2 linked regions of the Homo sapiens genome follow. The protein of the gene in region 1 purifies or fractionates together with the protein of each later gene. This does not show direct contact. Each region holds a gene or a part of one and is shown on either strand. Other genes may lie near its edges.

Region 1 (3,917 bases):
AAACTGAGGGCCTGAGAGGTTAAGTAAGTAGCCCAAGGTCAGAGAGCTTACCACGGAGGTCAGGCCAATGCCTAAACAAGGAAGAGACCTCCTAGGCACCACTCCTTCTCCTGCCGCTGGCCTGCCATCTCCCCACAACAGCTCTCTTTCCCTGACCCACTCCTGAGTATGAGTAAAGATGAATAGAAACACTTTCTAAAACATTAAACTGTTAGGAAAGCTCATTTAAACTGAAAGTCAGTGGTAATGGGCATTAACTTTCCTGGCCCCCTGCAAACCAAGCAAATAACAGCATTGAATTATAAACAGAGAATATCCCCTATTTTATCTCCTGACTCTCCTCAGCATGCCGGTCTCTCACTTTGGGTCTTTCATAAAATAAAGCAAACAATTTCCATGTTAATTTGAGTTTGCTAGAACGTAATCCTTTTTCATTATTTCATGTATTTTGTTAAGCTACTCACCACTGCTCCTTGTTTTACACAATATCCAGCTTTGATAACCGCACTATCTTGAGGTGGTTTAGGAGTAAAGTAAGGAAGATGGCTTTGTGACCGTTTCAGATTATTTCTGTCAATACTTTCACCACATTCATTTACTTCTTCTTTCTAAAATGAAGCAAAATAAATAAATTATTTTCTTGCTTGTTTAGCATACTTTTATTTCATATTATCCCAGTAGAAAATCTTAAAATCCACCTTAGATTAGTCAGAAACAGATTTTTGAAGAGTTTTCTAATTAATCTGAGATACTTACTCTTAATTTTCCTGTCACTGATTAAAGCACAAATTTCCATTCCTCTTGTTTTGCACAAGTCCTGCCACCAGTGCTCTTTTTTGGGGAAGGAGTTAACTTTTTATTTTGAAATAATTATAAGGATTCACCAGAAGCTGCCCAAAAAAAGTACAACAGGTCCTATGTACCCTTTCACTAGTTTCCCCTCAAAGGGAAACGGCGTAACATTATCAAAAAACAAGAAATGGACATTGGCACAACCCACAAACTTTATTCGGATTCCACCAGTTTTACATACATTCATCTATGTGTGTCTATACAGTTCTATGCAGTTTTATCACATGTGTAGATCTGTGTAACTACTACCACATTTAAGACCCAGAATTGGTCATCACCCCAAGGCTCCTTTGTGAACTTTAGAGTTCCTACCCCTAAATCCCCTGGCAGCCACTAATCTGTTCTCCAAGACTATAATTTTGACATTTTGAAAATGTAATGTAAATGGAAGCATACAGAAGGTTATCTTTTGAGATTATCTTTTTTCACTCAGCATAATTCTCTAGAGATTCGTCCAGACTGTTCCTTGTATCTAGAGTTCATTCCTTTTTATTGCTATATTTCCATGGTATGGATGGATGACCAGTTGTTTAACTGTTCACCCATTAAAGGACATTTGAGTTGTTTCCCACTTTTAGCTATTAGGAAAAAAGCTGCTATCAACATTCATGCACAAGTTTTTATGTGAATGTAATTTTCCCTTTCTCTACGATAAACACCTAGTCCTGCAAATGCTGGGTTGTACAGTAATCACAAGCTTACTTTTATTATTAAAAAAAAAACAAAACATAAACACTAAACTGTTTTTCAGAGTGGCTAATTTTCATTCCCACCAGCAACACCTGAGAGATTATGTTTCTCCTCAACCTTGGCAGCATTTGTGTCGTCACTTTTATTTCAGCCATTCTGAGAGGTGTGCAGTGATCTTTTATTGTGCTCTTAATTTGTATTTTTTCCCTGCTAGCTAATGATGGTGAACATCTTTTCATGTGCTTACTTACCATCTGTTTATCTTTTATCTTTTGATGAAATATCTGTTCATGAATTTTCTAATTGGATTTCTTGGGCTTTTTACTGTTGGGTTCTGAGTTCTTTCTATGTTCTAGATAAAAGTCCTTTGTTGGACATGTGGTTTGCAAATATTTTCTCCCAGTTTGTAGCTTTTCTTTTCATCCTCTTAAGAAGGTCTTTCATAGAGCAAGTATTTTTTATTTTGATGAGGTCCAATTTACCAATTTTTGCCTTTTATGATAGACATATATTATTTTATAATTTTTAAAACTATACTACAAAATAAATGATGCAATAAAATTATACCCTCCATAAAATCCTAGAAACTACTGAAATATCTATACCAAAATTACAATGCAACAAAATCTTAACTCTAGACAAAATTAAAACAGCCACAGATACAAACTAATACAGTGTCTTAACACAACTACAGGAAAATAGTCTTACCCCTTATGTCAACATAGGTCATAATACCAGTGAAAGAAGCTTAATCTAGGTACATAGTAACCAGAAGGTTAACAGTTTAAAATCATTACTTTTGGAAAAAGTAAACACACAATCCTAGCTTATTTTTTTATCCAACTTTGGTGGAAAATGTATGCTCTATGACAGCAGGGAATTTCTGTTCATTAACATACCCTTTGCCAAGCATAAAGAAAGCACTCAATAGTTAATTAATTAATTAATGTTGTAAGATTTCTAATCCCACTAATCACCCTCCCGTAGCAAAAGACCTGAAAAATGTGGGGAATGATACAATTTGATTTAAAAGATTTATAAAGTGTCAAAGTCTTTTGAGTTCAAAAGGCACACTGGTAATGAAAATACCCAAGCTTGGCAATACCAATTGATTACTTTAAAATTCTTGGTTTCTCAACTACTAGTAACTTAATATCCATTACAAATTCATCCTTTTCAATAGCAAAACAAGAAATTCAAGCTCAGACAAGAGTTTTAATTTCATCAAAAATTGTATGTAAATTTATATTTTTCCTAAAACTCAAATAAAGACTTAATTTAGCATATTAGTACTTCTGAGATATAACTTAGTTAAAATTCCAGTCTTCTGTTTAGCTCACTTAGGCCAGGTTGTAGAAAAAATAGATTTTAAAAATTACTACTTGCAAACTCTTGACTCAGCAATTTTATTTCTAGGAATTTCTCCTTTAAGAATATTCATCATAGCATTGTTTATAAAGTAAAAGAAACAAAAAGGAAAAGGAACTCTATTTGTCCAATAGAGGATTTGTAATTTATGGTAAATCCATGGAAGAACTACTATGCACTCATTAAAAATGATATAAAAGGATTTCTGATGACTTGGAAAATGTTCATGATACAAGTGAAAAAATCTGTTTACAAAATGTAATATACAACTCATATCTCCATTTCTGAGGTGAAAAGTACATGAAGAAAGGCTCAGAGAAATCATGAGAAGTTTTAAATGTTATGTAATTTCCAAATTTTTTATAATAAATACTTTTGAAATAAACAAAAATATTTTATAGTAATTGTATATTATACCAATTAAGCAAAGATGCACTGTTTTAGTTTTAATAATATAAAAATCAATATACAATAATTAGACCCTCACACAATAGAAGAGTTACTTAATTACCTGAGTGGGAGTAATGATGGGTACGCCACCAACAATATCAGTTCTGTAAGACACTTGCTTTTTCCCACATTCACCATGGCGACTTAGGTTATCAGAATTAGGCTGTGAGTCTGACTGCTTTGGTACCTGAAATAGTAAATAAAATGAATCATTTTGCAACCAGCATTATACATGTGAACCTGTTTTCTCGCAGAATTTCTAATTATTCATCCGTTTGCATACGGTTGACAGATACATATAAAAATTATAGTCCATGTATGTACTCCTTAAGTTATCACACTAATTTTTCTGTTAGAATAATATTTTATAATATAGCTATCACGTAATGAGTGCTTACTCGGGCAGGTACTAGTTCACACATTTTTCTCCTTTACTACTCCTGTCTACCCTATGCATAGGGGCTCTACCCCCACCTAAGAGGTAAGGAAATAGGCTCAGGGGCATTAGGGAATATAGATTCAGATCCTGACTATAATACATTCTAGCCAAGTGTGTG
Region 2 (3,917 bases), on another chromosome or scaffold:
TCCCACAAATGGCAGAACATACAGAAAATTAGAAGTTAGATCAGGAAAACTAATTCACAGACCCTTTTTTAAAGAAAGCATTCTCTCCTCTTTTAGACCGACAGCCGGGTTGAAATATTTTTCCTTTCATTTTTTTCCCCCAAGTGGACGCCTTCAAAATAGGAAACATCCGTCCAACCACCCCGTGATTGGTCTCTGAGCGTGAGACAGTGTGAGGCTTCTGAAGCCATTGGCCAGCCGATTTGTCACTAAGGAGAGACTCCAGGCTAGATGAAAGCTGCAGCCCTGAGAGCTCTGGGAGTTGTAGTCTCCTGGGCTCCCCTATGTCCAGTGCCAGGATGGCTAGCTGGAGACTCTGGAATCCCTCCCTGTTGTGTCCCTAGAGGGAACAACTAAAACTAATGATGGGGCGTGCCCCCCCCCCTCCGCCCCGAGGAGGCTGGAGGGCGAGGAGAAAGAGGGATAGCAGACGCGGTTAAAAGACAGGAGCAGCAGGGGAGGGAACTGAAGGCAGAATATGCTCATCCCTTTAGGGATGTCCTTTAGCATCTCTAATGGACAGAGCTGTCCAGACATCGCCAAAGACACACCTGGGACTGCCCCTGTCCCTGCCGCCTAAGGCTTCGCCCAGGTGGCCCTAGGAACCCAGGTCTCTGAAATGAAAGCACCTGGGTGCTTTCCTTGGGGATCTGGGAGACCTGGTGCCAACTCCTGCCCGCCACCCAAATCTGAGGAGCTGCAAGATGTGGCTCAGCTCCCGGAGACTTAGGTGGACCGGCCCGGGGCGCGATTCCCATCAACTATGGTCAGACCCACGTAAATCCTTCAGAGTTTGAAAACGTAAATGCTGCAAGGCCCTGGGGTACGAAAACACTGGGCCAACCTTGCCCTCGGGATGGGGTTCACGGCCTACAGGCGGGATGGGGCCTAAACTGGACTAGGGTCCCAGGGACACAACGTCGCAAGTCAGCGGCCAGCGCCGTGTAACTATGAATTAGAACCTGGATCGGACGGCCAGGGCGTCCCACAGGAGCCCACCCGGCACCAGGCCGCACAGAAGGAGACATTTAACGCGAAGACAGAAACCGTATTCGAGAAGCCTCCTCCCTCAGCGGCCACCGTTGCAGTCGGGGGCGCAAACGGTAGCCCCGGTAACGCGACAAAGCATGGGCGAGGCTCCCAACCGCGCGTGCGCCGCCCGGCCTGACGGAAGGAAGTGGAAGCATCCCAGACCCCGCCCCGACTCCCGGGCGTAGCGCCCTGTGAGCGCCCCCTGCCGGCCGCACCGCTCCTCGCAGGCCGAGGAGCCCGGCCGGTCCCTCAGCTCCGCGCGGCCGTCCGCCCCCGCCCCCGCCCCCGGTCCCGGGTCCCCCAGCCCGCGCCTCCTCCCTGTCCCTCCGCGGCGGCACCTTGGCATCGTACAGCACTCGCGCCTTGGTGGGGTCAGGCTCGAAGCACAGCACTTTCTCCCCTGAGTGGAATTTAAATTTCATGCCCTCGCTCGCGCTCATTTGCTCATCGTGGCGGAGGGCGAGGCTCCGGGGCGGGCGGAGCGCGCGCGGTGGGGGAGGGCGGGCGGGGGCGGGGAGGCGGTGCGCCGTGGCCGGGGGGGGCCGGGAATGGCGGAGGCTGCGGCCGCCCCGCCCTCGGCCCCTCCTCCGCCCGCCCCGAGCCGCTGCCGGGACCTCGGAGGCGCCTGGCGCGCGCGCTCCCGCCCGGGCGCGTCCCCGCACGTCCCCGCCGGGGCTCCGGGAGGGGTGCGGGCGGGGAGCGCGACCCCCTGGCCAAGGTCTACCGGCAGGACGTCTCCCGTCGCCCCCATGGGAGAGGGTCCCCGCGGCCTCCAGGCTGCGCCCACGTGCGCGCAGGGTCGTCCGTCGCCCCGAGCGCCCGCTCTCCGGCCCGGGCGTGGGAGGCGCCTAGGGAGAGAGAGAGCCGGTCTGGAGTAGGCACCCGGCGGCCGGGAGGCTGGACGGCGTCTGCCCCCAAGAGCTCCCTGGCCGTGCGCGCCGCGTCAGCCCCCTTGGCAGAGCAGCGCGCCGATGAGTGTGGCCACGCTTGGAGAACGCAGCGCTGGAGCTGGCCCCAGGCGGGCAGTGGCCTCGGGCGAGGGCAGAAGGGCACTCCGGGCTGTGAATAGAACACTTGCTTATCCCTTCAGAGGACAAGCCGGTGGCAGGCCTGGAGCCCCCAGTGACGGGTTGAGCAGTGGGCAGCGAGGCAGATGGGTCCTTAAAGAGTAGCTGACGTCTTCAGTGTCAGCTTCTAGCGTGGCCTGACAGCCCCCAGCATCCCCGGAATGCCCCCCACGGTCTATCTGCTCCAATAGACTAAAAATTCCCTAAATAGAAGCACCCTTGAGGCCGCTATCAATATGGTACCTGCACAGAGTGGATGTTAAGTAAATACTTGATGAGCGAATGACAAGTGATGGGAGACTTGAAGGACAAACTTCCAGGGACAGGAAGGACAGTGCTGGGCTTTTTCTTTTGAGTTTTGGAAAGCCGTTGGGCAGTGTAATTACTGGATTAGGACCGGGCTGGAGACCAGCTTCCAGGCTAATCTCTGCGGACCTGGTGAACTTCCCCTTCTCTGTTCTAGCCTCCAGAAAGTTGCATTTGCTTCCCCTCTGCACGCTTCCTTCACCAGGTTCCTGGTATACATCCTTCACATTTCAGCGTGGGCATGCCAACAGAAAAGCCCTCAGGCTTCCCAAGATGAATCATAAAGCCCTGAGGTGTTCCCTCCCAGGACTCTGCTTAACCCCTTTCTTGCATGTACCACTGTGCTATAGAATGGGTTGTTCATTTGCAAAATGACCTCATTAAGACAGTAAGCTCTTTGAAGCTGGGGGTAGGGGTCTTATCCAATTCATCACGGCGTATTCGTGGCACATAATATGGAATGAATGAACAGATTGATTTAGGAAATAGAACCCACAAAACTCAGTGGCCAATTGGATGTGAAGGAGAGGGAAGGAGGAATCTTGAGAGACTTCCAGGTTTTCTGGCCCAAGGAATTGGGTGAGTAATAGCTGCATCCGCCAGAATAAGGCTATACAGAGGAGTTAAAGGTTGGGGGAAGATGGTCAAATGGCCTTTGGGGTAATACGGTGCAGAAACTAGAACTGGAACCATGATTCCTCTCCAGGTTGTGGTGTATCAGAGATGAGAACAGTAGATGGTGGTGTTCCCCACAAATGGCAGGGGCGGCTTGGAAGCACATGTAATTGCACGTCCTGTGTAAACCGTAACTGAAGTATTCACCTTTTTATTTTTCCTGCCCATGATTGGAGAGAGTTCTGCTGCAGGCTCTACCCTTTCAGGGATAGGATTTTAGATGCTTTCCTTTGTTTCTCCGCATTTCCACCCCTTCTTATGTCATTGAGGAATTCCTCTTTCCCCGTCCCTCTAAAAAGTCCAAGAATGCAAAAGCCTTCAGGAACCTAAAAGTTAAAAAGCCTGCCAATGGCAGCACCCCTTACAGTCCTCCTCCAGATTAGGATCCACTAGAGAGGGCTCCACCCTTAATGCAGGACATCATTTTTCCTCTCGGGTGTAAAGGTTAAGAACATGGCCAGCTCTGCAAACCACTCTCCAGGACCCAGTCCCATGCTTGTCACTTTCTAGCTTGTGACCATGGACAACTGGTTAGTCTCTTTGTAATGCACTTTGTTCATGTTTAAAATGAAGGAAATAGTGGCTCCTACTTCATAGGGTTTTTTAGGAGTCAATGAGTCAATTCAGTGTACATGGCTTTGTGTAGTGCCTGACATATAAGGGCTGGGTAAATATTTGCTCTTGACATTAGGCATTTCTTATCTGTTTCTCCGTGTCCCCCATTCATTCATTCATTCATTCAGCAAATATTTATTGGACCTCCTGTGTGCTGGTTGCTAGACACACAAAGTAGAATAC

What was found.
Region 2: the proteins of PLEKHA1 (region 1) and MSL3 purify together in Homo sapiens (affinity purification with mass spectrometry; 2 studies listed by BioGRID and IntAct, with this or other methods). This does not show direct contact.

Annotation. Positions count from the first base shown.
Region 1 is NC_000010.11:122,412,550-122,416,466, reverse strand, and holds part of PLEKHA1 (pleckstrin homology domain-containing family A member 1), read right to left. Parts: intron 3,548-3,917; coding exon 3,422-3,547; intron 609-3,421; coding exon 465-608; intron 1-464. UniProt on the Homo sapiens protein: Binds specifically to phosphatidylinositol 3,4-diphosphate (PtdIns3,4P2), but not to other phosphoinositides. May recruit other proteins to the plasma membrane.
Region 2 is NC_000023.11:11,755,858-11,759,774, reverse strand, and holds the start of MSL3 (MSL complex subunit 3), read right to left. Parts: upstream 1,539-3,917; 5' UTR 1,512-1,538; coding exon 1,410-1,511; intron 1,194-1,409; exon of another isoform or gene 1,068-1,193; coding exon of another isoform or gene 1,002-1,067; intron 129-1,001; exon of another isoform or gene 1-128. UniProt on the Homo sapiens protein: Non-catalytic component of the MSL histone acetyltransferase complex, a multiprotein complex that mediates the majority of histone H4 acetylation at 'Lys-16' (H4K16ac), an epigenetic mark that prevents chromatin compaction.